3 separate regions of the Homo sapiens genome follow, and all the other regions are linked to region 2. The links come from fine-mapping of genetic effects on gene expression. A gene starts in region 2. Each other region holds a variant in brackets. All regions are shown on one strand. Distances are between the middles of the regions. Region 1 overlaps CMPK1 (cytidine/uridine monophosphate kinase 1). Region 2 holds the start of FOXD2-AS1 (FOXD2 adjacent opposite strand RNA 1). Region 3 has its middle 25 kb from the start of FOXD2.

Evidence for each region. PIP is the estimated chance that this variant, and not a neighbour inherited with it, causes the effect.
Region 1: its variant is the best candidate, but not a certain one, in a credible set for the expression of FOXD2-AS1 in whole blood (INTERVAL, PIP 0.63).
Region 3: its variant is the best candidate, but not a certain one, in a credible set for the expression of FOXD2-AS1 in whole blood (TOPMed, PIP 0.61).

Annotation. Positions count from the first base shown.
Region 1 is chr1:47,342,531-47,345,289 of GRCh38, forward strand. All of the region lies in intron 1 of CMPK1 (cytidine/uridine monophosphate kinase 1), which reads left to right. Among named protein-coding and RNA genes, the nearest start is that of CMPK1, 10 kb to the left of the region's middle. The variant A/T (reference allele first, on the strand shown) is at 1,158.
Region 2 is chr1:47,433,347-47,436,105 of GRCh38, forward strand. It overlaps FOXD2-AS1 (FOXD2 adjacent opposite strand RNA 1), which reads right to left and starts at 1,295. Exons shown (of 1, transcript NR_026878.1): 1 at 1-1,295. All of the region lies in intron 1 of LINC01389 (long intergenic non-protein coding RNA 1389), which reads right to left. RefSeq lists an enhancer at 780-1,295.
Region 3 is chr1:47,461,725-47,464,483 of GRCh38, forward strand. No RefSeq gene overlaps it. Among named protein-coding and RNA genes, the nearest start is that of FOXD2, 25 kb to the left of the region's middle. The variant C/G (reference allele first, on the strand shown) is at 1,601.

The sequences.
Region 1 (2,759 bases), 91 kb before region 2:
ATTATTATATTTCTATCAAAAGTATATGAATATCATCTTGGAAGATTATTTTAATTTTTACAAATTTGTTAATCTATTTTCTGAGATTTTTGAGAATCTTTTCCTTTTTCTCTTTTTTCTTTTTTTTTTTTTTTTTTGAGACAGGGTCTCACTCTGTTGCCCAGCCTGGAGTGCAATGGTGCCATCTCAGCTCACTGCAGCTTCTGCCTCCCGGGTTCAAGAAATTCTCCTGCCTCAGCCTCCCAAGTAGCTGGGATTACAGGCACTTGCCACCATGCCCAGCTAATTTTTGTATTTTTAGTAGAGATGGGGTTTCACCATGTTGGCCAGGTTGGTCTCAAACTCCTGGCTTTGTGATTCACCCGCCTCAGCCTCCCAAAGTGCTAGGATTACAGGCATAAGCCACTGCGCCCGGCAATTCTTTTTTTAAAGTGAAATGGCATAATTAACCATTTGTATTTTTTTTTTTTTTTTGAAACGGAATCTTGCTCTGTCGCCCAGGCTAGAGTGCAATGGCGTGATCTCTGCTCACTGCAACCTCCGCCTCCCGGATTCAAGCAATTCTTGTGCCTCCACTTCCCGAGTAGCTGAGAATACAGGCACATGCCACCACACCCAGTTAATTTTTGTATTTTTAGTAGAGATGAGGTTTCACCATGTTGGTCAGGCTGGTCTTGAACTCCAGACCTCAAGTGATCCACCTGCCTTGGCCTCCCAAAGTGCTGGGATTACAGGCATGAGCCACAATGCCCGGCCCTCTGTGTATTTTTAAAAAATATTTTCCTGGCCGGGCGCAGTGGCTCACACCTGTAATCCCAGCATTTTGGGAGCCAAGGCGGGTGGATCAGGAGGCTGTAATCCCAGCTACTCCGGAGGCTGAGGTAGGAGAATCGCTTGAACCTGGGAGGAGGACGTCGTAGTGAGCCAAGACCACACCATTGCACTCCAGCCTGGGCAACAGAGTGAGACTCCGTCTCAAAAAAAAAAAAGTCTCAAAAAAACCCACAAAACTTCCCTGTACTTGTCATTTATTCAGAAAACATTTTTTGAGAGCCAGGCACTGTGATATTGGTTGTTGAGTTGAGTCAGAAGACGCAGATTGGCCAGTTGCAGTGGCTCATGCCTGTAATCCCAGCACTTTGGGAAGCCAGGGTGCA[A/T]GAATTACTTGAGCCAAGGAGTTCAAGACCAGCCTGGGAAACATCAAAAGCCCATCCCTGCATGGTGGCGGGCGCCTGTAGTCCAGCTACTCAGGAGGCTGAGGCAGGAGCATGGCGTGAACCCAGGAGGCGGAGCTTGCGGTGAGCCGAGATCGCGCCACTGCACTCCAGCCTGGATGACAGAGAGAGACTCCGTCTCAAAAAAAAAAAAAAGCCCATCTCTACAAAAAATTAGCTGGGCCTGGTGGTGCGTGCCTGTGGTCCCAGTTACTTGAGAGGCTGAGGTGAGAGAATCACCTGAGAAAGAGAATTCAAGGCTGCAATAAGACATGATCACGCCACTGCGCTTCAGCCTGTGCAACAGAGCAAGACCATGTCTTAAAAAAAAAAAAAAGACGACAGACCCTGCTGCCAAAAGTTTACAATGTAGTGAGGAAACAAGGAAATTAATTGGTGATGACTACAGGATAGAATGATAAATCCTATGATATAAATATACCAAATATCCCATTTAGGGACGTTTAGGGAAGGGACATCTAAATGTCAATTTAATGAGTCAGGGAGGGCTTCCCAGAGGAGGTGATGTGTATGAGCTCAATTTTGAAGGACAGTGGGAAAGAAGCAGTTGGGAGATGGAAAAACGCTTAGAGCAGTTATCCTTGTATAGGGTTACTGAAGGATTCAATTCTGAGTAAAGTGTGAGAGGGTAAACCGACATACGTGAGGCTGACTCAAAAAACACTCCCTTGAATGCAAACAGATATGAAAGAACTTTGCAGGTATTAAAGTTCAACTGTAAATTATTATTATTTTTTCTTTTTTTTTTTTTGAGATGGAGTCTCACTCTGTCACCCAGGCTGGAATGCAGTAGCACAGTCTTGGCTCACTGCAACCTCCACTTCCCGGGTTCAAGCGATTCTCCTGCCTCAGCCTCCCAAGTAGCTGGGATTACAGGCACACACCACCATACCTGGCTAATTTTTGTATTTTTAGTAGAGATGGGGTTTTACCATGTTGGCCAGGCTGGTCTCGAACTCCTGACCTCAGGTGATCTGCCTGCCTCACCTTCCACAGTGCTGGGATTACAGGTGTGAACCACCATGCCCGGCCTAACTGTAAATTATTTCAAAATTGTTTATCTTTTAGTTTTGCCTCCCTAACTAGAGTGTAATGTCTTTAAGGGTGGGGACCCTGTCTTTTCCCTCTCATTTCACTACACGTTTTTCATTTATTTATTTATTTATTTTTACAAGGACTCTGGCTCTGTTGCTCAGGCTGGAGTGCAGTGGTGCGATATTGGCACATTGCAACCTTTGCCTCCTGGGTTCACGCGATTCTCCTGCCTCAGCCTCCTGAGTAGCTGGGATTACAAGCGTGCACCACCATGCCCGGCTAATTTATTATATTTTTAGCAGAGATGGGGTTTCACCATGTTGCTCAGGCTGGTCTCAAACTCCTGACCTCAGGTGATCCGCCTGCTTCAGCCTCCCAAAGTGCTGGGATTACAGGCGTGAGCCACCACGCCTGGCCTTCATTCTACTACATGGTTTTTGAAATGCCTTAGTCATCCTTCAGATCTTAGCTTAAAGACTCTCAAACGTT
Region 2 (2,759 bases):
TCTCCTTCCCACATACCTGGAAGCGTCCCCCACTGCCCCTGGCCGCCTCTGCTCTCAAGAGCGTGGAGCCTTCCCTACCACTCCGGGAACTCTGTGATCTTCAGGACCGGCGGGTTTCAAGTGGCGCTGTTTTCGGTCTCTCCTGAGGTCGCAACCCTCTTCCCACGAACAACAGCCCACAGGCTCCGCAGCTCGCCTTGGTCTCAACAACCGCGCAGTACTTGGGTGCTTAAGCGAGTCCCCTACCACATAGTCCAGGGTTGGGGGCGGGGGAGATGGGGCTGGGAGGGGACAGTGGCCAGGAGTAGCGGAAAGAGAAGATGTAAATTCACTCTCGAACTTTGCCCGGCAGACGCGTGGTGGTTATCTCCGCGCCAGCGCCTGAAGTGGGCAGGTGGGCTTCAGAGTTGAAGGTGCACACACTGGAGCCCCAGTCATTTCTGTGCATGGGGAACATGTCTGAGGTCTGCCTCCGCGGGTCACAGGATCTGGAGTCTCCCGCCTCCCACCTGGGCTAAGGGAGCTGATCGCTTCTGAGCAGCCGAAGATCCGGGTGGAGAAAGGGGCCGGGAGCTGTACCGGCTGAGGCTAGACAGCTATCTCGCTTTGGAGCTGCAGCTAGGTCCAGAGTGGGAAGGAGGCTCGCGCCGGCTTTGCCGCTTTCCCTGAGGGTGTCCAGTTTTGTGAATAAAATTAGAGAAATCTGCGGGCGTAGTTCCCCAAGCCCAGCTCAGGCTTCCGTTTGCAGCCCGGCGCTGGCCGAGCTCGAACCGCTGAAAAGGGCCGCGTGCAATCGTTCCGCTGTGCCTCAGGACAAACTCCGCTTCAAGCCAGTGCCGCTCTCCGGCAGTTTCCTGATTGACTTAATTAGATCCGCATAATCGCTGGAGGGCTTTTCTTTCCCAGAGCCGAGAACAGCTCATTTATGGGGACCAAAAGGAAGAGAGGGAGAGACGACCCGGACGCCACTGATAGCAACGTACTCTTCGCAAAAAACACTCAGTAACTAGTGGAAAAGCCCAACAGGCATCCCCCTCCGCCCGCCAACGCTTCCTCCCAATTGTTCTGGGCTGCACGAGGGAGATGGCCGGGCCGTGGAACAGATGCAGAAGGAGGCCCGGCACGACCAGAGACGCTGTAACCAAGACCCGCAGAGCCTGTGGCTTCCCGCTCTTTGGCGGCTGCAGCAGGCATGGTGCTGGAGCCCAAGGCTTCTGGGAAAGAGTCCAGGTTTTCGCGGAGGGAGCGACGGACTCACGCGGGATCGCAGGCACTGCTGCAAGACGCCGAACAGGCTGAGCCGGTAGGCGAAAGAAGTAAGGGTCACAGAAGAAGCAAAGAAAACGAAATAAATTCCGAATCCCGCGGTGGCCCTTCTCCCAGTCCCCAGTGCACTTACTCCTGACACTGTTGAAAACAAACTGGCCCAGAACCTTGGAAGGGAGGAGAGGCTACTAGAAATCCCTCTATACAGAGAGGAGCTCGGTTAGAGAAACAGCTATTTGGATAAACAGAGGGGTTCTGGGCTAGGAACCCGGACACGTAGGTCCAACCCAGCTTAGCGCCCCTCAAAAGCCTGACAAGTAACATGATCTCCTGGACCTCAGTTTCCGCTCCTGTAAAAAGTATGTATGTGAAGGGTCTGGATTCTCCCTCCCCAACCCTGCAGAGCAGAAGCTGGGGATTCTGTACTCCCCTTCCCCAGTGTAGGTCTCAGTAGCAGTGAACGTGCAGCAAGGCCAGGCAGAGGCAAGGGCTGGCTGCTGTAGCTGCTTGGTAGAACTTCTCTGAAGCAGGAAATTTGGGCAGCAAGTGCCCTGGCTAGTCTCACCCTGACCAAAGCCTGGGGAGCCAGGGGAGTGCTGGCAAGGAAGGAAGCTACTGGTTCCCATTTGCTGTTTTAGAAACGAGGACATTCAGGCCGGGCAGGGTGGCTCACGCCTGTAGTCCCAGCACTTTGGGAGGCCGAGGCGGGTGGATCACCTGAGGTAGGGAGTTTGAGACCAGCCTGACCAACATGGAGAAACCTCCTCTCTACTAAAAACACAAAATTAGCCGGGCATGTTGGTGCCTGCCTGTAATCCCAGCTATTTGGGAGGCTGAGGCAGGAGAATCATTTGAACCTGGGAGGCTGAGGTTGTGGTGAGCTGCTGAGATCAGGCCATTTTACTCCAGCAGGGGGGCAACAAGAGCGAAACTCAGTCAAAAAAAAAAAAAAAAAAAAAAAAGAAAAGAAAAAAAAGAAATGAGGACATTCAGAAGGTGAAATGGAGTAGGATGACGCCAACACTGTTTTTCTCTCCACTTGTTTAGATACTAGCAGAGTTGAGCTGGGTTGGAGTTGGTGTGTGGTCCATGGTGTGGGGTATCTGTGAGTGGGGTTCTGGGAGTGTGAGACAGATATCCATGTAGTCAAGAGCAAGCTTGAGGTATGTGTAGGGTTGCCAGATAAAATAAATCTGCTAAATCTAGCAACCCTAGGTATGTGAGTTTCCTTGGACTCATGCAAGAAGCTTCTCTCCAAGACCTTTTTCCCCGGACAGTCTGTCACCCAGGAAATTCCAATTCCAGGGCTACTAGTCCCTGTCCAATTTGCTGTCCATGGTTTGAGGACGAGATTTCTCTTTTTTCCAATGACAGTTTATGCTGGAACAGCACATTAAATGGATCCCCTTGGTCAGAGGTCCCAGAGGGGGCCCAGGCGACTTCCTCTCAAAGGACATGAGTAGTCAGACCTGCCTTCCATTTTTTTCTGCCCT
Region 3 (2,759 bases), 28 kb after region 2:
TTCTATTCCAATGATTAGCTTTTGGATGTTGAATTCACTCATGTAAAGTCCTGCCTGTAGTGATGGTTCCTTGGACAGGTGTGTGCCTGGAAGCAGCAGGAGGGAGTTCTTCCATCTTAGAGTAAGCTGTGACTTTCAGGTACTTTCTACTCCTTCATGACATCTGAGACAATGGTTTCAGGTCTGTTGGATAAGCCTTGAACATTCTGCATGTAGCTCTAAGCACACCCCAGAGAGGTGTGAGGACCCTCTACAGACAGGTAAGTCCTCACACCATGATGCCTGTCTTTCTGATGTGGGACCAAGTGCTGGGCCACCTGGGACAGTGGCTTCTAAAGCAATTGGCTGAGTGGAGATCATCCTCAGCATGGCAGATGGCTGCCCCTGGAGCTGCCTGTCATGGGATCATCATATGAGAGTGTGGTGAGCTGGAGCAAGATCACATTACGTCTTCTAAACTATACCTCTACTCTGCTCAATAGCAAAGGCTTTCCTACTCCCCATCAGCACTGAGACCTGCCCATCCTATTAGGGCAAGCAGTAACCTCACCGAAGGAGCTAACACCTCAGGAAATTCCAATCATTTGTCCAAGAGTTTTGAGACATGATTGCATCTTTGACTGGCTTCTCATTATCTTTGTGATAATGTGCTTGTTGAAATTACAGAGTTTGATTTAGCTCTCACTTCCTTTTAAACGTACTCTACAAAGAACACCGTCTTACACTGATTTGGCCCCTTTCCACACTGAGTTTCTGTATCTTACCAGATTATTTTTGACCAATAGTCATTAATGAAGACTTTTCATTGTTCCAATTCCTGAACAATTTTTGGGGCAGTAGATGGAGAGATGAATTTTGCTGGTTGAAGCTGTACCTGTTTGCCATGCCATGTTTTGTCTGTCAAGCAACCCATTCAACAACTACTAAAACAATATCAAAAGACCATCCAATATAGTAATTTTGAGCAAAATAAAGTTAAAAATGATCTGGCTCTAACCATAAGAATGACACTGCTCAACACAAACATCTAGATCTGTGCAGTTAACACTGAGACTTTCCAGACCAGTAGCCTTTTACAATGTCAGAAGTACCCTGTACACATCATGGCGGTCCACTGAAGTGCCCCCAGATTTGCTGTGGCATGGCACGTGTCAGACATGATGATCCTTGTATGGCACACTGGGACAAGTGGAAGGAAAATTGCAGGTCAGAGGCCCTGAGGCTGTGGGGTTGGTGATGACACCCACTGTGGAAAGTGAAATAATGAGATTCAGCACAGGGCTGCCCACAGAGAAGCCCACCTAGCCCAATGAGGGGTAGTTTAGAGGACAAGGGGATTATGGAAGGTTCTCTGAAGGAGATGGGCATTGGTTGAAGGACTTAAAGATTTAAGAGAATTTCCCAAGTGGAGACGGTAGTGGAAGGGAGAGATGGATGGTTATTGAGCGCCGCTCTGTGCAGGCATTGTAGGAAGTGATGGAGCAGGCACTCAGGCAGAGGGAAAGTGAGCAAAGGGGTAACAGGGAAGGCTTCGAACTCCTTGCAATTGGGTAATTACTTTTTAATTACTATTTTGAGAGCAGGGACCCTATCCACTCAC[C/G]CCTGTATCTCCAGAATCTACAACCACATAGTAAGTTCTCAGTCAGGTGCTTGTCTCCAGCAGAGCCTTGAAGGATGGTAGGATTTGGAGAAAGGAAGAGGAGAAGGGAGGGCATTCCTGGAGAAGAAGTCATGTGGGCAAAAGCACAGAGGTAGGAAAGCATGAAACATGTGTTGAGATCAATGAGGAGCCTGGTTTGTCTGGAAAAAAGGGTTTGTGCCAGGGAGTTGTGGGCGATGAGGTTGGAAGGTGGGCAGGAATGCAACATTTTCCAGGTTGGAGTTGAGGCCACAACAGTAATTCACTGCAGAAAGGAAAGGGAAAGGATTGGGCCACAGAGGATTTGCTGTGTGGCCCATGGTGGGATGGGGGTAAGTGGGCAGGAGTCTGTGGCCACCTCCTGGAGTTTCTGTCCAGCTCCTTGTCTCTTCTGGTGTTATGAAACTGGGAGTTGGGGGAGGGGCCTCAAATGTCATTTTTTTTCTATGAATAGGGACACACACACACACGCACACCAATCCTAAGAATGATTTTTTTTCCACTTGTCAAGAGCCAGAAAAAAGCTGAAGGTATAAAGTTCAGAACTGGCAGGGCTGGAGGGCAGACAGGGAAGGGTTGAGGATCTTTGAGTTTTCTAAGCTGTGGCAACCATTAGAAGCTGGGGAAAAAAAGAAAGAAGAATTTCCACGAAGCATCTGCTATGGCCTGTGGAAGGCTCTATGGAGTTTCTGGAGGAGGGTGTGTGCTTTCTTTCTGCAGAGTCTTGGCTACTCTGGGGGTAGGGATCTGTGCCCACTAGACTCCTCTTCAGGGTTGGAAGATGAGGCCCTGGATGCCAGAGCTAGAAGCACCTGGTCCCACTGCCAGAGCTGCACAGCCTGGGTTCAAGTCCTGGCTCCACAGCCTGCCAGCTCTGTGATCTTGAGCAAGCCATTTAACCTCTCAGTGCCTCCCTTGCTTTGTCTACAAAGCCAGAGTAACAACATCTACCTGCCAGGGGTTAGGACAGTTACATGAGCTAATGCTTGCTTGGAACAATGCACGTGGTAACTGTGTAATAAAAGTTATTATTATTATTAATTATTATTATTGAGAAAATGGAAGTAATACTTGCTTAGAACAACGCATGTGGTAACTGCACAATAAAAGGTATTATTAT